3 separate regions of the Homo sapiens genome follow, and all the other regions are linked to region 3. Evidence: fine-mapped expression QTL. A gene starts in region 3. Each other region holds a variant in brackets. All regions are shown on one strand. Distances are between the middles of the regions.

What was found.
Region 1: its variant is fine-mapped to the expression of SLC67A2 in whole blood (INTERVAL, PIP 0.95).
Region 2: its variant is fine-mapped to the expression of SLC67A2 in blood mononuclear cells (TOPMed, PIP 0.97).

The regions. Positions count from the first base shown.
Region 1 is chr2:102,693,320-102,704,565 of GRCh38, forward strand. It overlaps SLC9A2 (solute carrier family 9 member A2), which reads left to right. Exons shown (of 12, transcript NM_003048.6): 6 at 1,095-1,184; 7 at 1,724-1,794; 8 at 7,751-7,912; 9 at 9,087-9,183; 10 at 11,225-11,246. It overlaps LOC124905954 (a long non-coding RNA gene), which reads right to left. Exons shown (of 3, transcript XR_007087163.1): 2 at 10,872-10,990; 3 at 9,177-9,408. Among named protein-coding and RNA genes, the nearest start is that of SLC67A2, 38 kb to the right of the region's middle. The variant G/A (reference allele first, on the strand shown) is at 5,544.
Region 2 is chr2:102,708,384-102,714,867 of GRCh38, forward strand. It overlaps SLC9A2 (solute carrier family 9 member A2), which reads left to right. Exons shown (of 12, transcript NM_003048.6): 12 at 1-2,972. The coding sequence ends at 106. It overlaps SLC67A2 (solute carrier family 67 member 2), which reads right to left. Exons shown (of 6, transcript NM_032718.5): 6 at 6,247-6,484. Among named protein-coding and RNA genes, the nearest start is that of SLC67A2, 25 kb to the right of the region's middle. RefSeq lists an enhancer at 1-411. The variant A/AT (reference allele first, on the strand shown) is at 3,310.
Region 3 is chr2:102,728,952-102,739,443 of GRCh38, forward strand. SLC67A2 (solute carrier family 67 member 2) reads right to left here and starts at 7,937. Exons shown (of 6, transcript NM_032718.5): 1 at 7,695-7,937; 2 at 3,371-3,458; 3 at 2,074-2,117. The coding sequence starts at 7,859. It also overlaps a transcript of TMEM182 not described here. RefSeq lists a silencer at 7,844-8,053.

The DNA.
Region 1 (11,246 bases), 35 kb before region 3:
GTCTATTCTTCTCAGTTGACTGGGACATGCAGAACTGTGCTGAAGAGAGGCAGAGAGCTGAACAGAGACAGACAGAGCATCCTTGTGTTATTTCTGGCTCTAATAGAAATGCTTATAATGTTTCATTTTTAAGTGATATGTTCACTATTGATTTCTGGCATATGTCTTTGTCACATTAAGGAATTTTTCTCCTCCTAGTTTACTGAAGAGCTGATAGTTCTCCACATTTCCGGAGTTCACTCATGAACGTGCCCAGACTGGCCGCAAGCCCCCTCTCACTGCGGTGCTTTGCTGTGCTGTGGTCTCCACTGGGATATGCTTCCAGCATCTCCACCACTGCCCACCAGTGTCTCCTCTGCTCCAAGCTTTCCTTGACCTGCTTCCTGTGCTAGCCCTGTCATCCCTCTTCTGCTTACTTTGTAACTGTTTTCGGAAGTATCTGACTTTGTATAAGACTGCAAAGTCCTAGAACCCAGGTCCTTAACTATTCACCATTGGGTTCCAAATGCCCAAGACCCTGATATGTGTGCAGTAGAAACTCAGTGAAAATCGTTTTAATAAATGAACAAATGAAGGAGTCATTGATAAGTTTTCTATGGATAATACAACAAGTAGGTGATTCCTCTGAACTGGATAATACTTTATTATTATTACTATTATTATTATTTTGATAGAGAGGGTGTTTCACTATGTTGCCCAGGCTGATCTTGAACTCCTGGCCCCAAGTGATCTGTCCACCTCGGCCTCCCAAAGTGCTGGGATTACAGACATAACCCACTGCATCTGGCCTACTTTATTATTTTGTGTAATTACTTTCTCTGCTTCTTCCATTTTGTCTTTGTTTTTGTTAGGACATGGTCCTTTTAAAATATGCCAGCTATTTGAAAAGAAAGAAAAATTAACAAAAAGTTACATTTACTGTGTTAAATCTTGGTAGCCAAATATCTTTTGTCATTACTTATCAAAGCTTAGGAGAAGTTACCCTTGAATATTAAAATGTAGTTTATAAAAAATTTATATTAAAATTTTTATATTAAACAATTTATAAATTGTATAAATATATATGAAATGCTTAAATTGTGTTTCCTGTTCAGGGAATAACTATTCGACCACTGGTGGAGTTTCTTGATGTCAAGAGGTCCAATAAGAAACAACAAGCTGTCAGTGAAGAAATCTATTGTCGGGTAGGTGTTAAGAGAGTGTAATAATTTTAATGATAAAGGAAAAATATTTGAATCAGTCAAACAGCTTGGTACCACGTTGTCCATTTCCTGAAGAAGAAGGGAATGGCAGGGTGAGAGGGAGGAGGGCCTGAAGAAGGTATTTGCTGGGGGAGTATAGAATAGATATGGCCCCACGGTAACTTCTCCAGGTTAGCTTACTAAACTCCTGCATGAGTAGAGAGACAAGAAGTCCCCTCTTCTTACTTCCTTTAGCCTGGAAATGTTCCTACTGGGAAATTATTACCATATTTCATACTTTTCAAAATTATTAACAAACTTATAGGTGAGCAAAATAATCGAAGACTTACCTAATACTGATGTGACAAACACTTCATCAGTTTGTTTGAAAATGAACTGTTTTATTGCTTTTGGTAATAAATAATAAACAAATAAGAAGCAAAAGCCATGAAGGTCTTTGGAGTTTAGAAATGATACAAGTAGAGTGAAAATTATTGATTTCAGGTAAAGACTAATCAATTTGCCTGCTTTTTCTGTTTTAGTTGTTTGATCATGTGAAGACTGGAATTGAAGATGTTTGTGGACATTGGGGTCACAACTTTTGGAGAGACAAGTAAGAAGGTCTTATGCCATTGGGTTATGAAGTGGCCCAGGGTCATTCTGAAAGCAGGACTTACTGATTTGTATTATTTTTTAATTGGAAATCTTTCCTGTGTTGTACCATAGTATGTCCTCTAAGATAAAGTTCAGCTATAACAGAGATGTGGAATAATAGTAGCTTAAACAAGGTAAAAGCTTATTTCCCTCTTCTGTAAATAGCCAGAGATAGGCAATTTAGGTTTAACAGATGAGGTTTACTCCAAGACTCCCCCAGGGTCCGAGGACTGTCTGTCTAGTCGATCCACTAAGAGTAGCCTTCATTTCCAAGGTTGCCTCTTGAACCACAATGGCTGCATCAATATTAGCCATTAGAGGCAGCAAGAAGGATGAAAGATGATGAGTAGACAAAGCATATGTGTTATTAATAGCTGCCTTCTAACTGAAACCATCAGAAGCTGCCATATGATTCTTCTGATCATTGGCTTGGACTCAGTCCTATGGCCATTCCTGTCTGCAAAGCAGGCTGAGGAATGCAATCTATTTGGCTGAAAACTAGGGCTTCCATTACTATCCATTTTGCCACACATGGTGGGAGACTTTGTCAAATGCAGAGATTCAGACCATCTAAGGATGTAAACAGATGAGCAGAAATAACGTGTATATATATATAATATATATTATATATATATTATATATATATTATATATATATATAATATATATATAAAAAGCTAAAATTATCTGAAAAATTACATACATTTATATAAATGCACATACCTACAGGCACACAGAGTTTACCATTCTGTAAAAGGCTCTGTGTTGGATAAATACAATTCAATACTGGTCTTCAAGGATCTTAAAGTTGAAGTGGAAAAGGTAGACCAGACAGGCAGAATTAGATGTATGCTTTAATATAAACTGAGAAACAGCATTATGGGTCAAGAAATTTGGTTCAATTCTGACAGCAGAGCTAGGAGCAGTGGGGTACAGGAGCCAGCCCCCACTTGCTAGTGGGAGCTCATCACGTACCTCTCTTCCTGACTGCACATTTGGCACTGTCCAGAGTGGTTGCTTGAATCAGGGCTTATATCATGGAACTGACAAATGCTACAAATCAAGGCCCTTTTTTTTCATAGAGAAATTTGTTAAACATTTATTAGCATATCACTGGCTAGGCGAGACTTTGGAAGGCAGCATTTAAGCTAATCCCTGAAGACAGAAGAACACGTTTTAAACTATATTTGGTAGATCCCTCTTGTTTTATTTTTCCTAACTTGCTAACAGAATTTTTTTTCCCTCCACTGCTAATTTACATGAAATTGACCAACCTACCAATGTCTGCAACTTAACACAAGGGAATTTTTTAGTGTTTCCTGTTTGCTCATATATGCTGGCATAATATTGGGCTACATAAGAAGTATAAGCCATAGACTCAGGCCTCTGAAATTCTGTAGTATCACAGACACAACAAAACCGTCACACAGCAAGCAGACTCCTGTGTGTGTGTATATATGGGTGTGTGAGAGAGAGACCATTAGGGAATATAATGAGTGACAAAGACATTCAGTGCTAGAACAACCTTTACAAGCTTTACAACACTGTTTACTACTGTAGACAGGGCCCTGGGACTCAGCCTTACCATATAATGAAAGGAAAAAGATTTTGTTTGTATGGAGAGCACGCCCAATTAGCTACATGGGAACACAAGGTAATAAAATTAAGCAAATTATATTCTCCATTGTAAAACTATTTTTTAAATGGCCATTTCTCAGGGGAAGTATTCCCTTTTCTGGAGGCAGGTGGTAGACCAGAGATCCTATACATCTACCCTATGACTCTGGGACATTCCTAGCATGAGGGAGTCCCCATCTGTGCTAAGCCAGTAGAACAGAACTTTTTGCCTCTCTTCTCCACTGTTTTCATAGTAATGCCTATTTTCTGCCTACCTTGTTCCTTTCAACTCAACTACTATCCTCCCTTTCCCTAGCATCCCCTCAGTACTTTTCTGAAATGACATATGAGAGGCGTAACCCAGAACAGCTGGTTCCCCTTCCAAAGTGAGTGTTAGGTTCAAGATATCTAGTGCTCCTCTGCCTCCCAAATGGGGGAATATAGATCGGCCTCACACAGTAATGAGGCCACCTGGTCCTGGGGCACTGTCAGAAGAGGTAGATGCTGTGGTCACTTGGGTTTGGCCTGGAACTCAGGAGAAGAAATGTCAGAGAAAGTCTGGCTACGTCTGTCTTTCAGGCAGAGACATTATCTCTGGAGTCCATGAATCTGCCCTAAGCACACATCCAAAGGCTGCCAGATTAATTGGCTGTAAGTCCTAAAGATGGGAGAGCCAACCTTGCTCCATGCCTGAAAGGTAATGTTACATGGCTAGCATTTGCCACTGCAGTGGATACACTTATTTTAATAATTTTGTAAGTATTGATATATTTCCACGCACAACTTTTTTTCCAGGAAAATTTCAAAGTTTCAGCACCACATCCCCCCGCACCTACTTCCCTGCTCTACCTATGATATACAGTGTCATAGACATCATAGATGCTGTATATCACAGGTAGAGCAGGGAAGTGGGTGCGGGGGGATGTGGTGCTGACACAAGACTTCTTAAAACTGTGTTCTGCTGAGATCACATCCTTGGTGATTGTTAATGTTACTAAAAATCAGCATCAAAAAGAAGCGATTGTTTCAGGCATGTTGGGTGTCTTCCCTTTTCTCTGGAATCCTTATGCTGTGGATTTCCAGTGGTTCTGCCAGAGAATTCTTGAGGCATTTGATCCTTTGAGAATGAAACGAAGGGTGATACAGTAGGGACCCTTCTCACTCTTGGCACAAGCAGTCTAATGATGGTGAAATAGAATGCCTATGTGTAGCTTAGCAGAGAAATGAAAGGTGTGGAAATGAAGCAAGGAAAACGCACTATCCCTACACGAAATAGAGCAGATGCCATTGTTCTTGGTGCTTGTTCTTCCTTTTACTCTCTCTAGTGAAAAGCTAAAACAACAATAATAATAAAAGAAGTTTTAAAAGATGTGTTGCTGTCAGGAGTCCTGGTCCAATGGGCCTAACATAAAACTCCAATTAAAAGTAGAGAAAAGTAAACCCAGTCCTTAGTGTAGTGGCCAGCCAAAAACCAAGCACATTCAGGATGGCTCTTCTTTAATTATTCAGAGCCCTCTAGTATTTAGAACAAAGGACTATCAACAAGAATGTAGGTTAACATCGATTCCTTCCACGGCACAGGTGTGTCTATAAACCTCCTTGGGCTTGTGGTGATCACGTAGTACACTTATTTCTTTCTCAACAAATATTTATTGCATGCTGCTTCACTTATGTATTGGCATAATAATGTTGTATAACAAACCATCCCCAAAACTCAGCTGCTCAGAACACGTCATTATTATTAAAGTGCATGAGTCAAGAGGCTGATTGGGGTTGGGCTTGGCCAGTTGGGGCCAGGCTTGTTCATGTGCTCCAGTGGGTTGGCTGGCTGCCAGCTGATTCTGGCTAGATCTATCTGGTGTGATTGGAGTGAGGTGACTCTGCTCCATGTGACAGTCACCTTTGTCCTCGGACTAAGGAGCCACTCTGCATATCCTTCTAATAGTGATTGTTGAAGCACAAGAGGTAAGCCTCCATGTGCAAGCCCAGGTTAAGCCACTGTTTCTTTCATTGTGTCTGCTAATAGCCCACTGACCAAAGCAAGGAACATTATTGAGCACGCTGGCAAGGAACAGGGCAAAGCAAGTCATCT[G/A]TGCCATGATGGAAGGTCATTGCCAAGTAATATGGCAGAGGGTGTGGATACAGGGAGGACTTGGGACCAAATGATTCATTCTACCACACGTGCTTACAGTGTGCCAGGCACTGGTGACACAGAAAAAAAAATCTCTGCCCATGTAGACCTTACATTCTGTGCTAGGAGACAGAAAGTAAGACAAGTAAATTGTATGTCATGCTAGAAAGTGATAACTACTATGGGGAAAAATACATCTGGGCAGCGAGATGGGGACTGCTGGGGGAGGAAGGTTGTGTGCAATTCTAACAGGATGGATAGGAAGGGCACTTGTGAGAAAATGATTGTCAAGGAAAGACTTAAAAGAAGTGTAAAAAGTGAGCCCTGAAGGTATCTGGGGGAAAAGGATTCCTAGTAGAAGGAATAGTAAGTATAAAGACTCAGACATGGGAGCACTGCTGGTAAGTCTTTAAGATAGGAAGGACACCAGTGACGCTGCAGCTAAGGAAGAGGGGCACAGTACCAAGAGGGCCAGATCCAGATTGTGTAGGAAGTCACAGACCATTGTACTTGTACCCAAGGAAGATGCAGGACAGTTACATCATTAGACATATTTTTAACGGGAGCACTTGGGCTTCTGTAGGAATGCAATGGTGGAAGCAGGAATGCCAATTTGGTGCTCACTACAAGAATCCGAGAGAGAATGATGTCTTGGACCTGGGTGATAGCATTAGATGAGGTGGGAGATGGCTGGATTTTGTATGTATTTTGATGTGGAACCAACAGAAATTGCTGATGGCGCAAAGATTTGGAGTACTAGTCTGCTAGGGCTGCCATAACCAAAGTACCACAGATTGAGTGGCTCAACAGAAATGAATTGTCTCATAATCCTGGGGGCTAGAAGTCAGACAGCAAGGTGTCAGCAGGGCTCATTTCTTCTGAGGGCCACGAGGGAAGGTTCTGTTCTACGCCCCTCTGCTTGGCTTGTAGATGGCTGTCTTCTCCCTGCCTCTTCACATCATCTTCCCTCTCTCTGTATGTTTTGGAATCCAAACCTCTTCTTTTTATAAGTACACCAGTCATTTTGGATTTGGGCCCATTTTGATGGCCTCAACTTAATCACTTCTGTAAACACTAGATCTTCAAATGTGGTCATAGTCTGAGCTACTGGGGATTAGACTTTAACATATGAATTTTTGGCGGGACACAATTCAGCCCATAACATAGAACATGAGAAAAGTAGAAGAATCCAGGATGACACCAGGATTTTTGACCTGGTGGAGTCATCGTTTGCTGAGATGGGAGGACTCTGGCAGAATATCAGTTCAGTTTGAATATGTTAAATTTGGGATGCCCCATAGATATCCAACTGCAGATGTTGAGTAAGTAGCCAAAAGCTCATATCTGGGGTTTGGCCGAGAGGTTGGAGCTGGAGATACAAATCTGGGGGTCATTGGCATAGAGATGCTATTAAAAGCTAGGAGACTGGGCAAGATGGTGACGGGAGTGAGTGGCGGTATGAAAGAGGATTAAGAACCGAGGCCCAGAGCACTCCTACATTAACAGGTCAAAAGAAGAAAACAAAACTGAGAGGGAGGGTGAGAAGGAGGTTGGGGTACCCCAGGGTGGTGTCCTGGAAGCCAAATGAAGACAATAGTTTACACAAGTGAGGGCAGGAAAGATGAGGATTCATAATTGCCCACTGCAGTTATATCATGAGGTTCACAGACCACTTTGATAAGAGTAGCTTTAATGGAGTATTGAGGCAATGTGAATGTTCAAGAGAGAATCAGAGGAGAGGAATTGGGGAAAACAAACAGTGATAACGTTTCTGAGCAATTTCGCTAAAAGCAGAAGTAGAGAAATGGTAAAGACAGAAACATGTATTTTAATCTGTAATTAATGAATACTAGATTTATGTGCATCAGGGTCATATACAAAAATGTAGCAGTATGTGTCATATATACATATATGTGTATGTGTATGTATATATACATATGTATACATACACATACATATACATACGCATACACATATATACATATATACACATACACATATACATATATACAGGTAGGCACATACTAAATATATAAAATGACCAGATTAGCTAAATGCTGCTACTAAGTATTTTCCTGGGAATGGCAGAAATGACTTCATTGGTAAAAACAACAACTATTTTCTTAGTCAATCCAGTATTAATTTATTGAAAGTTTCTTTATTTACAGGTTTAAGAAGTTTGATGATAAATATCTGCGGAAGCTTTTGATTCGGGAAAACCAACCAAAGTCAAGTATTGTATCTTTATATAAAAAGCTTGAAATAAAACATGCCATTGAGATGGCAGAGACTGGGATGATAAGTACTGTCCCTACATTTGCATCTCTAAAGTAAGTATGGTCTTGCAAATAAAAGTTAGTATTGTTAAATAGGCATTGATAGTATTTTGAAACTGGTAATAATAATTTTAAAAAAATTATTATTAATTGATCCGCCCCCCTCGGCCTCCCAGAGTGCTGGGATTACAGGCATGAGCCACTGTGCCCAGCTGCAAATACTGAATCATTTTTCTATGGGGACATAAAGGTTAGGTTCCTTTGAGCCTGTGGTCACAAAATTTTCATCAGCCAATCAATATGTAACCTATTTTATGTATGTTTATGTTTACAGACACCTTATTTAATATATATTGCTAATTCATTAACATTGAATTGATGGTCAAGAACACTATAAATTCATGTATGATCAAGCTTAGTTAACAAATTTTCTCCATAAGGCACATCACAGGGTTCTTGTGCTTGGGAACTCTAGACAGCACTTCAGCAATGCCTGGGGGCCATTTAAAGCAGCAGAACCACCAATAAATAACATAAAAATATTAAAAAATCATGTCACTAAATAGACTGTGAGAAGGACATTATTTATAGTATGAGAGTGGAAACAAGAAAGCAGATGTCTCCTTGTTCAACATCTTCAGGGAAACTGTGTCAAGTGACTCAAATTTTTTGTCACTCTCCATATGTCTGAGAATAACTGCAAAAATACTGAAATTCTGATATTGGGTTTATAAATCAATATTAGCAAGTAGGTGAGGTGAGTTCATGATTATGGAACCCACAAATGAGGATTGACTGGATATACATACATGTTATAAATGGTGTGTTTGCAAATATTTATGATGAGGTTTTTAAAATATGAAAACTTAATGGTAAATTGAAGTCAATTAGGTTTCTGTTGGAGAAAACTATTCTATTTTACTTTATTTATGGAGTGTTAGAAATAATAAAGTGAGGTAGCATTATAAGCCATTGTAGTTTTTCTTCCCTGAAAACATAATGACATGAATAGATTCTGAAAACTTGTGAATTGTTAAACTTGCCATGAATGATTTTGAAACTGAAATAAGAGTCACAGAATTTGGAATTATTTTAAGTTATTGAATAATCCCTAAGTGCTATTTTTACAAATTAAGACTTGTCTTAAATACTTATATCTCTAAGGAAGAAAATCAATGATTCTAATATTTGTTGAAAGGTAAAATATTCTTTTTCTAAACTTTCACAGTGATTGTCGTGAAGAAAAAATAAGGAAGGTCACGTCCAGTGAAACTGATGAAATTCGAGAACTCTTATCAAGAAATCTCTATCAAATCCGTCAGCGAGTAAGAATAATTTATGTAGCAAAATATTTACTTACCTTTGGCTAACAGGATGCCTTCTGGTTTTGTGCTGTAACTGGAGGCTGCATCTTGACACTGGGCTCAGCAGGTCCCATGCTGGGCATCTTCTCTCCTTCTGCTTCTCTCCATCCCTCTTCAGGGTCCTACTATCCTCCTGGACACCATGGCTGAAGCCTTGGGGTCCCCTGGGAGTTCTGCTGCTGTGGGCTTGGATACAAAGAAATACACGTTGACTAATTTTAAAGAAATGAATTGATTGCTGTTTGTTTTAAAGAAATAGTTTTATAGCTTAGACTTTAAAAATGGACCTCACCCTCCTTGTTATTTATAAAGTGCTATAGTTTCTTCTCTTCTGAGCCACTTCTTTCACTTCGTTTCCATTGTTAGCACCTTATTCTAATAATTTGCTAACAACACAGCTACAGAGTAGAGAGTGTCCTCAATTTTCCAAGCCCCATTTCAGTGTGTTGCATGCATTAACTCATTTAATCCTCCAGTGAGTGGTAGGTGTTACTGTTGTCGCCATTTCACAGATAAAGAAATTGAGGCACAGGGAGGTGAAGTGGCACACGGGCCACACAGCTTGTCAGGAGTCCTCCTTGCTCATGTGGGGGCTGTTTCAGCAGCTTCTTAGCTGGTGTCCCCATAAGGTGTCCCCATTTCATCCACGTGACTCTTACCTGACCCTTTTTCCTACAGTACCTTTTAATTTAAAATGAAACAAAACATTAGTTGTGGCTCCCAAGCTAAACTATTCGTTGAAAATTTGGACTCTATTTCCAAGTTCCACTTTATCCAACCATATTTCCACATCTGCCTCACCCATCTGCTCCCTGAAACACCCAGGGAGTGAGAGGTTCTGTTTTCGTTCTTTGGCCCAGGTAGCTTTCTCGCTGTCCCCTGGGAGCATCTCACACCTTCCTGTCAGCTGGTCAAAAGCCTCCAGTTTTTAAGGCTCCCCCAACAGCCACCATATTATTCCCATCCTTGTGGTTAAATGGAATAGCACTTGGAGCTTATACTGTACCATGTAGATACAGCACTTATTTCCATGATTTTGCATAATTTTGTTAGCCTTAGATGCTCAGTGAGATGGTAAACTGCTCAAGGCAGGAATGAAGCCTTGTTCTGTGTTATGTTTGCATCTCTCAATAGAACCTAATATATTTCTGGACACAGGGATATTCCCAAGAAGTACATGTTTATTCTATCAGAAATGAATTTAATTATTATTTATGATTTAGGAAACACATTTCTATATAGCCTATAAAACTAAAAGTGGATTCCATGTACAGCCCTAGTTTAGAAATTTTACTTTTCAAACACTGGGATGTAATCATTGTGGGGAGTGTCACCAGCTCTCTTCATGTAACAACCCAGTTGAAAAAAGGGAATGTGCTGAAGTTAATCAGAAGGGCATGGCACCACCAAGTGGCTCAAAGTGGTTTGTTTTTAATGTCAGTAATTCCTATTCAAAACAGACTGTAGGATGGTGGCTTGTATTTTATTTCCAGATATTCATGATGGCTAAATACCTACAAGAGGCTTCAAGGTAGACATGGCACTTGATGAAATCAATCATTGTTCTCATTTATGAAAATCACACTTTTCAATGAAAAACAAACCTTATGATCTGACTTTTATTAAAGGATGAACTATGTGGCACATACCTGTAATAACAACTTGGAAGGCTGAGGTGGGAAAGTTGCTTGAGCCCAGGAGTTGGAGGCTGCAGTGAGTTATGAGTGCCACTGCATTCCAGCCTGAGTGACAGATCAAGACCCCAACTCTAAAAAAAAGAAAAATAAAAAAACACAAAATGAAAAGAAAATATAAATTCTTTGAAGATCTGAAGACTGTTAACTTTTATACTGTTAATTTAATTTTTTGCTCTGCACAGAAGTTATAAGTGCTTAGCTGAGGTGCAGATCCAAAGAAATGTGGTAAAGTCTTGGAATTTCTGGGGGAAATGATCAGGTTTTTGTTTTTGTTTTTTAATGTCCTCTATATGTTTTCATTCCAGACTTTATCCTACAACAGACACA
Region 2 (6,484 bases), 23 kb before region 3:
AGACAGTTTGACTGAAGGCATCCCGCCCAAGCCGCCACCACGGCTGGTCTGGAGGGCATCGGAACCTGGAAGCCGGAAAGCCCGATTTGGGAGTGAGAAGCCTTAAGAGAAGCAGCGAAAGCAGATCTGAGTGTCTGACCCAGGACAGCTGTGGTTTGTCACTCTGAAACCTGATGCAACAGTGGAATCCATGTAAAACTCTCTGTGCATCTAAATACTTCTGGAGGGCGACAGATTCATGCCACGGATAAATGAGGCAAATCCGAAGAAAAGGAAAATCGAATAAAAAATAGTCCCACAAAATACCTTTTGTGACTAATGGGTAGCAATCGTATTATTTGCTGGCCTGAAGAGAAAAAATGGTAATGTGTGCCTTTATTGAACTTGAATGACAGAACTTGAAATTTTTAACACATCCTTCTTGGTGAAGATTTTAATATATTACTTATATGCTTCAAATTTTATTTATGAAAAAATATGTATATCTGTAATCAGTTGTTAAGTGAATGGCACTAAAAGTATCGAGAACAGCTTTCTTTCCCAGGGGTGAAGGATGGCGCTCGGGGGTGACTCCTAAGCTCAGCGTGGAAGCTTTTCCCTGTCCTGACCCGATGGAGCAGCCGGTAAGTGAAGAGCACAGCTGGAAGCAGAGACACCTTATGACTCAAACTGGGCAAACAATCGGAACGTCATGCAGAAGGAATGGCCTGACTCCTGCAGTGCAGATTGGAGGCCCCAGAACTCCTATGAACTACTGAGAGTCTACTGGTTTTTAACTTGTTCCTCTGTCTACTGTGTGTTTGGGGGTGACATCTAAATTCCATTTCTTCTTCTTGTTTAAATGGTGCAGAGAGAAAGGTTGCCCAGACATCCACCAGCTTACTGTGTTGACAGATTTGGGAGCAGCTTTTGATGAAGTTCCACCCATGAGGGTCCATGTGGCAAGTAGGGCCACAGGGCAGCACCTGGTTACAACTTGCTGGTGGGTTTTATGTTGTGCAATACTAGGAGGAGGAGGCAGGTGATCTATGCTGATCTATGATCACCTGCTTCAGTAGAATTTTTCTGTAGAGTGTTGTTTGAATTTTGAGCCTCCAGGTTAGAGGCTCCAAGCAGACAAAGAAGAAAGTTTGTAGACACAATATTCTAACATTGCACAAGTTGATGAGATATCAAGTTTTGAATATTATTCAGGAAGCACTTTGGAGAATGTGGGAGTCCTACTGTTTTGCACTAGTCTGTAATTTGTTACCTCTCCCCATTCGATAATATAGTAACTCAGAATTTTCATATAAAATTGAATTCTACTCATTAGAGTACTTTTTAAAAGTACAGCAGAAAGAAAAGAAGTGGAACATAAGCATTCAAGATTAATATTTGATTCTCTATCTCTTAACTGTAGATTTTATTGGCCTGTTTTTTTTTTCTAAATAATTCTTTAAAACTTGACTGGAACATGCCTCTGCATTTCTGAGTGTAGAAATTAAATGAAGCCACTCACAGTCCTTTGATTTCCCACTGAAGATACCCCAAAGGATGCAAGTGCCTACAGTATTATCAGGAGGAGAACATGAAAATATTAAGACAAAAATCCTCAGCAGTTGTTCTCCACCCCTTCTCCACCTCCACCAGCAAGGAGAAGTCAATCTACACTTTTTTCTCATGTTCTAAAGTCTTAGAATACTGCTGGATTGTTGAGCATGAGACAGAGCAAAGGTTAGATACACAAGGTACAAGTTCATAGGAGCACAATTCCTTGATTCAGGGAAAGTAGCACAGAATGCAATTTGAAAACTACAGGCTTAGGACTCTGTGCCAAAAATCTCTATTTTAAATGAAAATATTTATATAAAAATACATTTATTCTGCTTAACACAAATTAAAACTGACATAAAATTTTATGATAATAACATGATTCAAGAAATGTGATGTAGATTTTTGAGAATGCCAAAAATCAGGTTTCAGAAAAGCTACAGTATGAAATCTGAAAAGCAACAGAAATTGAAAGTGACCTTAAAGAATAAATTTCCTAATTTTTCCCAGTTTCCTATGTTTATAACTATTATAAAGAGTTTAACTTTCTGGAACTGAAGGAGAAAACATGAAAATGTTTATATTGCTTCTTGTTAAGCAGGTAGACCAAATTCCGCTTTCAGTAATTCATCCATACAGAATTTGGATGACTATGTATAAAGGAAAACTTAAATCTTAATTATTATCAGTTTAAATTTTTTTTGTTTGTTGAATGACAAAGGCAATAAAAATAAATTTGACTTTAGCTTTTTTTCTATACTTTCCTCTTTTTGTAATTCTTAAATTCTAGTCACTAGTCATTATGAGAGTATTGACTAAATATTTTCACAATCTAAATATTGTCACAATCTAAATTTCTGTAGTAGAGAGAGCCGTAGCCCTTTGTAAAGGCTTTCGTTCGTCCAAACAACACTTGATCCAACCAAAGTTCCAATGTGACTGTGGATCTTTGATAGGTCTTTGGTGTTGGTTGTAACAAAATTTGATTTGAACTACCTATAAATGAAAAGTCGGGGTTTATTACTTTATATGTAATGCTGAGAGGAGACTGTTGGGAACAGTTATGTCAATGAGCAAACTAGAAATTGGCTTCAAAGTCTAATACTTTTAAAAGCATGTGTTTTGTGTATATGCTCACAAAATGTCTGTGAAGAGATTTCTTTCAGCTTTTGCTCAGCTTTATGGTGGGGTGTACTGTTTTATCTGGGCGGTGAGGGTATTGATTTACATAAAAACTGTAGACAAACACAGTACGAGTCTCAGCACGTTTTGCATTTATTGTACTGCCCAAATTGTTTTTATGTTAAAAGTCACGTTTCATAATCTGCAATATTTTTGTCAAAGTGCACACTGTACTTTCTTCTTAAAAACGTGATTAAAGAGATCACTTTGTCCGGATGAAGCAGCTGTTGGCATTATCCGCTGAGGCTTGAACACCACGTGCTGATTCTCTCATCAATCTGAAAAATAACACTCGTGGCTCAGAACACACAAGGTTAAAGTGTGTGGCGCACTGCTACTTTTTATCTCACTTTTTAACCAACCCTTTCTTCAACCCTCTTCTAAGGAAAGCAGAAGTCCCCTTTGGGTACCAGCTGTGTGGCATAACCATGGCTCCTTGTCCCTGACAGATGACACCTTCCTTTAGAATCCACCAGCATCATCCACTCTGCGTCTAGCTGACACCCTCAGACAGGGATCAGCCACCCTGGGGCGTGCAGGTCAAATATGCAGATGGGGACTTTGCAGACCACTTCAGTGTCACGCTGGCACATC[A/AT]TTTTTGATCCTTTTTCCTTTTTAAACTTCCTGCACCTTTTCAGATAAAATCATATTTTACTATGTATAGCTAATAAATCGTAGTTTTGTTCTCTTAATCGCATGGTCAGGAAATGAGTTTTTCTAGGTGTAGAGTTAACCTGTCTACTGTGAATGGATTATTATCAACTTTTCAATCTACACAGCATAGAGATTATTTTGATGGCTCAGAACATACGTCAAGAACTTTCAGTATGTGCAGAGGTTGTATGGGAATCTGTTGTTCTCCTACTGGAGGGTACGGAAATGTCACTCCATGAGATGCCCAGCAGACAGAATACCAGATACAGAGGCTGTGATTTTTCTGATTTCTGGAACAAAACATCTTGAATTAAAAATTCAGACATTTTAATCCTTTTTTATTTTATTGGCTCCTGCTGAGTCATAAGTATGACTGGAGACTAAATTTCTAATTTAGATGAAGCTCTTTGTATCCACTTAGGATAACCCTGCTTACCAAACAAATTTTGTATATGTACACGGACAAAGGAAATTTTTCCTTGTTTCTATGAAAAATCTTACCAAAGTTTAAATATTAAATCACATGTAAACCTTTAATCACTTATGGAGAAAATAGTACATACATGAAAACAGAACAGTCCCAGTTTTTGTATTTGTGTATGAAACCACTCTCATTTATGTTGAATGGGATTGTGATGGCTAGAATTCTTCAAAGGTAAGAGCTTCAGAGTATTGAAAATTTCAATTCTATTAATTCCAAATACATATATCTCAGACTAGGCTAACTCTATTACAGTGTAATAGAACGTGATTAGAGGAATAAACATTTTAATTGGTGCATTAATTTTTATATCTAAAAAGGCTCTGCAAAAGGGCTCAAAAATGGTGTATGCTTTTAAATATTAAATACGGCCTTCCCATGCAAACGTAAAGAAAAGAAGTTAATTCCAATTATTGCCTTAATAATTTTTAAAGATTATGCAAAGATGTGTATTAACACATCAAATTTTAGGTTTCCATGAATACATAGTTTGGCATCTGATTAATAAATAATAGATTTGCTACCATAACTATGTCTTACTATTGAACCTTTAGTTTAAGTCCTGACCTTTAGCTAGAAAGTTATTTTGAATGGCAGTAACAGTTCATCATGCTTTCAGTGCTATTCACTCCAAAGAGATGCACAGTGAAGGTACTTTGAAGGTGCCCCAAAGAAAATGCTCACCCTTGTCAGTGACGTCACAGACTGGGCCTGACAGATGTTAGGCTTTGAGATGGCCAGGCCTATGCTTCAGCCCCACAGAACAGACTACTTAAGGCAAACACCTACCAAGTCGCATACATACAGCCCCACAAGGGTCCAGCCCGAGTCAGCGGCAGAACACCTTTATTAGGTTTGCTTTGGATATTTCATGTGGTTTCAATTTCATTAAGCAAACTTGGGACAGGTTTAGGTAGGTAAGCTATCACACAAAAAACTAGTTCTGTCTGGATAAGAGGCTGTGTCTCAACTACTCAAAATGGCATGGAGATTCTTTGGTAAGCTTGAAGGAAGACTGTCTCCTATCCATGTTATAAGTTGCAATCATTAATAGGTATTTTAACCACTTTCTTCCTCTACAGTGGATGCTTAGAAAAAAGAACTGTATCAAGATGTAGTATAAAGACTGATCAAAATACAATTCTTTGTTCAAACAAGATCCTTACAGTTCATTCTTACGCTGTGTAAGTTATCAGCAATAATTAACACTCCTTCCTTAATGTTTATAATTATCTTCTCCCTGGAAGGAACAATACAAGCTGTGTTAAGTCACTTTTAAAAATAAGAATCAGTGGCCAGGCACCGTTGCTCACGCCTGTAATCCTAGCACTCTGGGAGGCAGAGGTGGGCGGATCGCCTGAGGTCAGGGGTTTGAGACCAGCCTGGCTAACATAGTGAAACCCTGTCTCTACTAAAAATACAAAAATTATCTGGGCGTGGTGGCGCGTGCCTGTAGTCCCAGCAACTCGGGAGGCTGAGGCAGGAGAATTGCTTGAACCCGGAAGCAGAGGTTGCAGTGAGCCAAGATTGTGCCATTGCACTCCAGCCTGAGCAACAGAGTGAGACTCCATCTCATAAATAAACGTTTCTTATAATATACTGAAACAGGAAAACAGAAGTTTTGCTTTTATTGTTTTAGTAGACAGCTATCTATAAAATGGTGTTTAGATACCTGTTTGGGAAAAATGAGAGATCTAAGTATTTGTGCATCTGCTTAACTAGAAATAAATCCTACTGTGAGATGTTACCTTAAAAGTACAGTTGACCCTTCAGCAACACAGAGTTGAACTATACAGGTCCACTTAAACGGGGATTTTCTTCCATCTCTGCCACCCCTAAGACAGCAAGATCAATCCCTTCTTCTCCTCCTCCCCCTCAGCCTACTCAAAATGAAGGTGGCAAGGATGAAGACCCTTATGATTCCATTTCCACTTAATAATATTATTTTTCTTTTTCTTAACATTTTTTCTCTAGCTTACTTCATTGTAAAAATACAGTATATATGTAACACACAAAATACATGTCAGTCGACTATTAATATTGTTGGTAGGGCTTCATGTCAACAGTAAGCTATTAGTAGTAAATTTTTAGAGAGTCAAAAGTTACACTCAAATTTTCTACCGTTTTGGGGGCTTGGCACTCCTAACCCCTGTGTTGTTCAAGGATCAACTGTCCTCTACTTACTGGCCTTCAGTATAAATGTCAGATTACATATATATTTGGTATCTGCATAATGGTTTTAAAAGCCAAAGCCTTGTTTTTAATATTAAGATGTGTTCTAGCATACTGGAGATGACATTTTTCAAAGCACTTCTGGATCCTGAATTGAAATATGTAGCAAGACACATCAGTGACTTCTAAAAATACAACTTATAAGAATAAATGACAGTTCCTCATTACAATTATAAAGTTTTATTTTTGAAGAAAATTATCATGTGACTGGCAAATTCAAGAAAAAAACATTAGAGCTGAAAAAAAGTTATTTTAATCCATCAACCTGTTCCAAGAAAAGCTGCTACACATCATCCTGGCTAAATCTGTGGTAACCCTGTTTTAGAGACTTCTTGAAGGCTACTAGGGGGCAAAGAGGCATGGAGATTCAGTCTCATGGCTTTTATTATGCATTCCAAATAA
Region 3 (10,492 bases):
GACACATAGGTACTTAATAAGTGGATCATTTTTTATTAAAATACATTTATTTAAAAACATTAGCCAAATCTGACAGAATATACTTTTTCTGTATAAAGATTTGTTCTCAAAATTAAAAGTTTTTTGGTAAAATTTATAATTAAAATATGTGCTTACAGAAGTATGGGTTAAAAAGGAAATTTTAACTAGGAATTTCTGTATCTTAAGGCTTTCTAAGAAAGGTTTTCATTAAATTTCAGCTAAAAGACATATGAAATGTTCTGTGTAAGTACAAACATAAAACAACAAAGGAAAATCTGAAAAAAAGGGTAGAGTCATAGTTAGCAATAAAAATTTACATTTATAAAGTGCTAACTATTGCCAGGTACTCTGATAAGTAAGAGTATAAAAAAATTAAGCAAGTAAGCCTGGTCTGTATCTCAGGAAGACCAGAGTCCAGGAAGAGAAAACATTAAAAGAATTAACATACACTGTGACCTAATAGCTCTAACAGATACACACATCAGATATTTTGGGAGTGAGTTTACAAATAAAGAGAAAAGGTGTTTACTAAGATGTAACTCAAACTTTTCTCTCACAAGAAAGAACATGAAATACGACATTCTGCTTGACAAGCAAGTGCACTGCTCTCCTGTACAATCTGATAACTCTAGTTACCTATTTACCATTTTATATCATTAAGGCAATGACAGATGACTCTTAGAAAAAAAATAATATGGGCTTAGAGTCTAAATACTGAAATTAGGTAGCTTAGTCAAATTAACCTATGTGGGTCTTAATTGGTCTTAATTTCCTCCTATATAAAAGAAAGATACCAAACTACTTTGCTGGGTTACTATAAAGTTTAAATGAGGCTAAAACTATTATTGTAATGGAAATCTAATATATGAAATACTTCAATAAATCAGGAAGTAGCTGTTTACTTATTTAAGAATTTATTATGGAATCTGACTGAATTTCTTTTAAAAATATATTTTACAAGGAAGCAACTCTTGGGAAACATAAGTACACTTTGTGTTCATTAAATATGAGACCCCCAGGCCAGCTATTGAGACCAAAGTCACTACTGATCAATTGTGAGACTAAATAGACTATTCTACTGAACCGCCTGAACCACTGGACGCTGAGGTCTCCAGACCAGAGTGATCACAGTAGACATTACAGGGAGAGAGAAGGGGACATCAGGTAAGGTCTCTGAAATTCAAACAACTGAGTGGTCAGAAGTAGGGCACTGACAAGGTCGCCACTGAATCTGTGTTTCTTTTTTTTGATTTCTTAGAAACAGGGTCTTCCTTCCTATGTTGCCCAGGCTAGACTTGAATTCCTGGGCTCAAGCGATCCTCCAACCTTAGCCTCCTGAGTAGCTGGGACTGCAGATGCCAGCCACCATGCCTGGCCACCTCTGGATCTTTCTACTCCATGCTGCACATATACAATCAGCCAATCCAAATGTCCCCTTCTGTCTATACACTTAAGTCTTATAAAAAAGCTTTTATTTAGTTCAAAATACACAACTTTAAATAGAATAGCAGAAATATAAATGGATTTGATTACTGTCAATGAAGTGTAATAAATAATAAAATTGGTAATAACATTTTTTTTTTTTTTTGAGACAGAGTCTCGCTCTGTCGTCCAGGCTGGAGTGCAGTGGTGCGATCTCGGCTCACTGCAAACTCCGCCTCCCGGCTTCACACCATTCTCCTGCCTCAGCCTCCCGAGTAGCTGGGACTACAGGTGCCTGCCACCATGCCTGGCTAATTTTTTTGTATCTTTTTTTTTAGTAGAGACGGGGTTTCACCGTATTAGCCAGGATGGTCTCGATCTCCTGACCTCGTGATCCACCCGCCTCAGCCTCCCAAAGTGTTGGGATTACAGGCGTGAGCCACCGCGCCCAGCCTAAAATTGATAATAACTTTTGTTTACATTCTTTTTGTCTGTAAAAAGCAGGGAATTGTAGGAAGAACATATTACAATTTAAAGGTGTTCTCATCCCAAATCTATCACTTTTTGATAAACTTCAAGTCCCCAATTTTACTACATCTGTGATGGATGAGACATGTGATCATAACTTACCACCAATGTGCTAGAAAAGAGTTGCAAAATGCCATAGGAGGAGCCTGTAAAAAACAAATCAATAACAATAAAATCAGCTAGAGCTATCACAAAAATGGATTAATGTGATAACAATTACACAGAAACCAACAGAAAAACATTAGGGTAAGATACCTTTTTGTTTTAAATTATCTCACATCTTTTTTTTTTCTACTTGGAAAAATGGAAGTAATACAATTTCTAACAAAATGGAAGTAATACAATTTCTAACAAAAGGTTTTCAAAAAATTGAGGGTAAACAGAAGAGAGAAAAAAGGCAAAAGGTGACGTTATGGACGCTGTATGATTGTCCTTCCATCATATGAGATTGTGTAGCTTCAACTTATGAAACAGCATAGAGAGTACTCAGGGGAATAGAAATTTAAATTCTGGAAAAACCCTACTAAGCCTTAAAATCTTAACATTGTCTCTTATATTTCTAATGTGTACTGGTTTTATAAAATGATTTATTTTATAAAGAATTTATATTTTTTTTACAGAGCTCTTTTACCTCCATTATCATGCAATGTGCCCTATCTGATTTTCCCAAAAACCTTCACACTGCTGGGTGGTCCAGTGTAATTCCAAGTACATTTGTCGAGGGAAATACAAATCACGGCATGGACCATGATTTAACAAATATTATGTACAAGACTGTCCACAAACACTTGCTTGTTTGGCTTGTGAATGATCAAGAGCTGTTAGTCTCAACAATTTCCCATTAGTTAGCATAGTCCTAAGCCCTGCTGTCTCTTGCCTTTTTGGTAAATCAATGACTTCTGGATGGAATTTTTAAGCTGCACAGGCAGAGAAACTCTACAATATCTATGATGTGTTGGTGACGGTGTGAGAAGCTTGCAACTAATTGGCTAATGTTCACCGAAACCCTTTCCCACGAGATGTGATTTCTGTAGATTATGTTTCCCTGGTCTCTCACATTAGGTTAAGGGTTCCTGTAGGCAGGAGTCCACATGTACCTACCCTTTTATACACACAGCCAGCTCCTTGCAGAGGCTCCATAAGTACCTGTTGCCACTAGTGGCATGGGACTTGGTTATAGTGCTCAAATCTCAAAATCTCTTTGAACATACGTCGTCTAGAAAAAAAGGAATTGCATTTGCTATAGGGTAATATTTTAAAATATTCTGGAAATTTGTTTTATCTCATTTCCCACTTACCTTTGGATAATATTTGGATACAAAATTGAATTGTTTTCAGGTACTTGGTTCAGAGGATTTAAAATTCAGTGCTCTAAAAATGAGCAATATCGACCACTCACCTACTATTCCAGCAACTGTTGGACTTGCTCCAAGGGACTTGACATGAAGGCTCAATAAAGGCACAACCATGCTGACACCAAACAAATCCTAAAACAAAATAAATGCTGATGGACTCAAATTAGTATTTTTCAAACTAGTAAACCTAAAAATTTAAACTAATTTAAAAAATAAAACCAATATCTAAAATTTTAAACACGTAAGAAATCATAATTGGATTCCATAGCATGCCATACAAATCCGCTGCCACTTGCAAATGCCTGGATTAGTCTGACCTGGGATCCGTTTTAACTTTACACTCAAGGAGGATATGCTACAGAAGTTCCTCAAACAAAACAGACAAAAAACCCCATATTTTCTGTGGATAAGTCATAAGAAAAAATGCAGTCATAATTTGTATTTATTGGTGAACCAGCACTTGCTTAAAAATATGTTTCCTTCTGGAGTTGGCGAAAGTGGCTAATGTCCTAGGACCTGTAGTTTATAAGCTTATAAAATAATACCTGAGAAGAAAGGCTCAGTAAAGCAAGAAGGAAGAAGCTGGTGCACTAGGGAAAGGCCAGTGTTTTGCAGCTAAGTCATAGAAAGTGAATGGGCTTTGGGGTCAGGCAGACAGTTCTCAATTCCACCTCCATCACTTACTAAACATGTGTCTTTGGAAAGCTACTTAAAGTTACCAAGCTTCCGTGCTGTCATCTGCAAAGGGTAGAACAGTAATACCTGCCTGGTAGAAATATGATGAGCATTAAGTGGCATAATGCTTGAGAAAGGCCTAATAAAACAATGTAAGCTCAAACATGTCTTCTCCCTTCTTCAGTTCTGGGGATAAGGACAGGTCCTTTTTGCTAGGTATTCTGAGTTAATAGACAGACTGTTAACTTTTCTTTTAATTTTGTTCTTATTCTCACTAGGTTACCTGCTACAGTTGGTTTAGTGGGAGAAAAAACATTGCACACACACAGTTTTCATTATATTCGACCTGAATTCCTTCTTTCATACAGCTGGTTAGTTGGAAAGAAAGAACTCGCATGAAATATGTATTTTCCTTGAGCTCAGAGTTAATCTTTTGTTCCCCCTTCCCTGTCCTGGTAGCTGTACATTCATATAACTATAGATACATAAATTTCCACATACTCTTTTCAGTGGGCCTTTTCCATGGTTACATCTTTAGATGACCCTGTTATCTAATATCAAGTGACTATAATTAGCTCTTAAAATTACATTACCAGAGTGATGGTTTATTATTTCAATATTGCCATTACTTAAAATTTCCTTTGGGTCTGAGTCCATTTCTTTTGGGCTTTGCTGTCAGTTGCATCTCATCAGCCCACTGATGTTTACACATTTAAAAGACTCAAAATGTACCAGCCACCTATTGAATCTTCTGGATCTTTCAGAAAAGGAAACTCAATTGTCCAATAACCATTTTTTTCCAAAAAAAAAAAGTCCCAGTACAACATATCATTTAATAAAATGGGTATCCTAAATAAGAGATGGAGAGAAATATTTAGGTCAAGAGACTGAGCTCTATGGAAGGTAAGTATGAAAATACAGACTCAAAGGCAATAACTGATGATTGGTATTACTTTAGCACTTGGTGAGTCTGAAAAGTACTATATTCTTCCAAGGAGACTGGCCACTGAATCTTTCCTCTCAGGAAGTTCTGTTCTAAAATTGCCTTCTCCTTTACTATAAAAGGCAACTCCTTTCTGCTTCTCAATCCATAGCTTCTTCAAAATCGCTGCATTTGGCATCTGGTCATGTGCATGTAACCACTTGTAAAAAGATCATGTCAGAAGGGGCCACTTAAACTTTCACTGAATATCAACATTTTTCAATAAAAATTGATGAATATGTACACTCAAAAGTTTCAAGACTCTTTTCAGGGTAGGAACCCCAGTAATTATTGATTACTGGACTATCTCAATGAAAATGAATTATCACCTGAATAAAGCTGATGGGATGGAAAACAAATCTCACCAAGTATCTGGAGGAAAAAAGTGGTTGAAATAATAGATCTCATCACCATCTAAGCATCCTAAACAAAACGGGCCTCAAGGGTCATCTTGGTCTTCCCTCCTAAACAAATTAAAACTTGGAAGTACGGATAACTGCTAAAACAGAACAATTTGGCAAATGACTTCTCTAAGCTTGTTCCCTTCCTCTCCCATTCAGAAACCATTTGTCCAAGAATCTTAGAGGTCTCTACATCCCTAAATATGTCAAAAAAAAACTAAATTATGTATAATGTTCCTTAGATGTTACCTAACAATCATCTGTTAGGTAGCTTTATGTGACTTTCATGTAAAGCTTCATATATTTAATTGTTTACAATATTTTCCATTAAAAAAATCCCTACTCTTTCAACTTTTGGGAAACCATAAACTTTTCCCTTAAGATATGAGACACCTAATGGTTCTCTTGAATACATTATTAAAGTTATTAAAATTCTGTATCAGGCTTGCTAGATTAGACTTGCCAAATACACAGCATAAAGAAAACATATGATAAATTGTGAATATTCAAATCTGTATTGGAAGGCTGACCTTAACAAATGATCTGCGAATTGCTTTGTTTTATTCTAATACTAAAACTACTTTGAATTCTAAGTCAAATTCTCTGAACCCTAGTCTGGACTTTCCAGGTAAGGGCTCAAATGTTTTCATCTGGCTGAACCAGCCCAAGTCCCTTCTGAGACAGGACAGCAGTAGCTTGGGACCCATAACTAAAAAGGCTGGATGTCAGCCAACTCCTCTCCAAGAACCACCCATACTCACTGGTTGTGAATTCTAGGTGCCTAGACTGAAAAGTAGAAGAAGCATCCCCATGCTGAGAATGAACTACTAGATTAAAGGAATAGTGGTCAGAAGGAGTGCCAGTCTCTGAAGTTAAAGGCATGGAGCTGGAGGGTGGATCCTGCAATGGCCTAGAGGCAGAGAAATCCTCTCTAAAAAGCCGCCCTCCCTGAAGACCTTGTGTTTCTGGGCTTGCAGCAATTTGATGAACATGCTTTCATGGTGATCTTAACTATTAACTCAACATAGAGTTGCTACCAACTGAACGCCTTGCATGGAGGTGGTGGCATGGAGAGTGCATGAAACTGGGAGAAGTGGTGGTCTTGATCTGCATCTGGGCAGAAAACGATGACTCCCTGCCAGGGCCCAGTGCCATCAGATACTATCTTCAAGGCCTCAAAGGCAGCCTTCTCCCATTGACACTTATCGCAGCTTCCTTACCCTCAAGATACTGGATTAGCTCACACTCAGGGCTGAATCAGGCCTAGCCTTGGAAAGGGAGGAGTGCAGAGGTGGATCTAGGGTTCTTGCAGATAATGGCCCAGAAACTACCAACATCAGCTTACTTGTAAGACTGAATTCTTCTGTGGCAGAACTGTGGATTACAATAGTGAAGCTCCGCAGCACCTGCCACATGGCAGGTGTTCAGAAATGCCATGAATCAGCTTACTAAACTTTCCATTCTACGTGGGAAATTAGCACTCAGGGAGCAAACCAGGACACGCGCGCGCGCACACACACACACACACACACACGATGAAACCAAACCGCCATTGTGCAATGCACACCCTTTGTCCAAAGGTAGATGGGTACAATTCACTCTGATCTGCATTTTTAAACATTCAAGTCAACCGAGAGCTCTAGTGAAAATGCACCCAATTCTGTACAAGTGGGGTCATCAACAGCGGCTTCTCCAGCCTGGTCTGGTAAAAAAGCAAACCACAGGCACACACATCATGATGAAACCAAACCTACGCTGTGCAATGCGCAGTTTGTCGAAAGGCAGATGGGTAAAATTCACTCTGATCTGCATTTTTTAATATTTAAGTCAACCAAGAATCCTAGTGAAAATGTGCCTAAATCTGTCCAAGCGGGGTCAAGAGCGGCCTCCCCTGCCTGTTCTGGTAAAAAGGCTTGCGTGTCCCTACCTCACCAGCAGCCGCACAGCAGCTGGGCTTTTCCAAGCTTGCCCACACCCCTGTTCTCCGCCCTGCAAAAGCTGCACCTGCCACAGCATTTAACACCTGGTCACACCTGAGGTTGGTACCAGGGCTTCTCAAAAGGCAGGGAAGGGAAGACGTTCCGCGAACGGGGTGCAAGAGAAAGCGCGAGGGGCAATAAAGCAGTGTGGCCAGATGCAGACTGAAGTGGGTGATAGGGCAAGAGGAGAGCTTGATAGGTAGTGAGGCACTCACCAGGCGGACTGCGGGTTCCCACTCCCTGGGAGCTCCCCGGAAGCTCCAAGAACCGCCTGGGTCCCCAGGCCCGAACACAGTCAGCACTTGCTCCCAGCCCCCACGCTCGCACTCACCAAGAAGCCCACCAAGTAGAGACAGAGCAGGAAGCGGCGGGCTCCGACGGCACCGGAGTCGGCAGCCTCCGCCTCGGTTCCTGTCTTCTGCTCCTGTTTCCGCTCTGCGGTCTCCGAGACCAGCCTCGGGGCCGAGTTCATGTCCCAGTGACCCCCAAGCTCCATACCCGCGCCGGCCGGGGGTCGGACGCAGCAGCAGCCGCGGACCTACCCCGGGAGCCCAGCCCCGCCCCGAGCGGAAGCAGGAGGCGCGCGCCTGCGCAGAGAGAGGGGGCGGGTGCTACCTGGCAGCTCCGCGGGTGCGTGGCCGGTGCTGGCTGGGAGTTCTGGTCTCAGGCAAGGTGGGGACTGGGCACATCATCAATACGGTAAGCACACACCAGTTTGTGATGATAATGATGATGCTCTTTGTTTCCTCTGGGTACAGACCCTGCTGCCCCTATCGTTGGAGGACAGGAGGGAATTGTATTGAGCTTCACTTCCTCCTATGGAGTTGTGCTAGGAGGTGACCAACTCCAGCTTGAAGATCCACAGACCCTGGCCACCAGTTGGTTGTGACAGACCTAGGATACGTTAACGTGGCTCTCCAAGCTTTCGTTTGCCTATTTAAAAAGCAGTAGGAAATAATGTAGTCCAACTTCTAGAGGTGTGAGAATTCTACACATGCTTCTTAAGATCCTTTCTGGTGCAGTGCAATGTGAACAAACCATAGATGGTCTATGCCTGAGTTGAGATTACAGTCTCATGGAGTAAAAATAATAAGCACGCAGTAAATAAACATAAATAAAAATACTAAACATGCAATGAAAAAGCATAAAATAAGTAAAATAATATGGTGATAATATAAAGAAGCACGGTCTTGATGTGGAAAGTAATGAGGTGGGGAGTGAGCTACTTTAGAAAAGCAGTTTGGAGGAGGTGACATGTAAGCTGAGAAGAGTGGAAAGAAGATATGTGTGGCTGAAACTTCCTCATCAAACTGAGAGGTCAGCAGGAGTGCAGACCATTTAGGACCCAGAAGGCCATAACAGAGATTTGGGGTTTATTCTGAGTGCAGTGAAAGGAATTAAGTGAGTGCATGACACCAAAAGATGCCTTTAAATTACTTAGCAAAGCCCATGACACATGGTAAGTAATAAATGTTAACAATAGTGACTAGCCCCTCTTTTCTTTAGAACTTGTTATTTATTCCTCTTTCACTGTGGGATCAAGAAGACTCTGACATTTTACTGAGATTTTGCTCAAAATCTCAATTTACTTGTGTAGGTTGCTAATTCTGAGATCTGTTAAATTCAGTGTTGCAAAGTTTCTCATGGGAGGTGGCACTGAATAGGGAGAAGTGGAATACTGATACTTAGAATTAAGACATATAATTGAATCCAGGTGAAACTGTCAATCGTGAACCCCCAAGTTATTCTGAGACTCCTTTGCAGGAGAACTAGTTTGCTCTCCTATAGCTGAGGAAACTAGTCTTTTTGTGCTTGAAATTTTGTGAGTAACTCATCTGGGAAAGGCGCCTTGAAAGGGCTGCTCATGTTAACCCATTAAAACCACTCACTGTGGCTACTAAATACATAGCTAGGGTGAAATTTTAGCATGCTCTGGTGACAGGTACACATTATAACCTAGGAGGACATCTCATACACGCCAAAAGAATTGGAAGTCACGGCCAGGCGCGGTGGCTCACACCTGTAATCCCAGGACTTTGGGAAGCCAGGGTGGGCAGATCACAAGGTCAAGAGATCGAGACTATCCTGGCCAACATGGTGAAACCCTGTCTCTACTAAAAATACAAAAAATTTAGCTGGGCGTGGTGGTGCGCGCCTGTAGTCCCAGCTACTTGGGAGGCTGAGGCAGGAGAGCTTGAACCCGGGAGGCAGAGGTTGCAGTGAGCTGAGATCGCCCCACTGCACTCCAGCCTGGCAACAGAGGGAGACTCTGTGTAAAAATAATAATAATAAAAGATTTGGAAGTCTCTGCTAATATATAATCAATGTAAACTTTAGAAACCTGGGGGAGAGATTTCTAAGGGTGTCAGACAAAAAAAGGGAATAATATAACACTAAATTAGGCAGAATTCACTAGTATAGATGCATTTACAACATATACCGATGTAATATGTTAGCTTGTGCAGCTGGAGGCAGCTCTAGTAGTTTAGTCAGTTGGTTGAAATTTAGACTCAAAGATGGCCTATATTTAATGATGTTCAGATGCCAGAGTTTTCCTGGCAAAATGTGGATAAAGGACTCCAAAAGTTTTGGAAAAATGACAATGTCAGAGTGGATTTATTATGTATGACTTGCAAGCCTAATACTCAAATATATTCCACGAAGAGGCCAAGACGACACTTCCTGCACTAAGGCACTGAGGAATGTATTAGTGAGAGATGCACTTGCAGTTTTGAAAAGATTTGCGATTGCTCTCTTTTGTAGGCCAGGTATAGCCATAGAGGATACCACCTTTAAGATAAGCTCTCTGATTATATGAGGAAAAGATTTCCAGATTATCAGAGGCCAGGTCATAGCACTTAAACTCAGAAGACAAGGTGGACACATTTACTTTTAAGGTCAGCAGGAGTGTACCAGTCACCAGAATGCCTTGACCTGCAGGGATCTTTGACTATGGCTAATTGATTATAGCATCCCTGGGAATGAAATAAACAGAAAGCCTACCAATGATGAATACCCCAAGCTCAGTGTTCCTCAATTTTGATGTATAGCGTTCATATGGGTCCACTGCTGACATGGTTTGGATCTGTGTCCCCAAGAAACCTCATGTCGAATTGTAGTCCCCAGTGT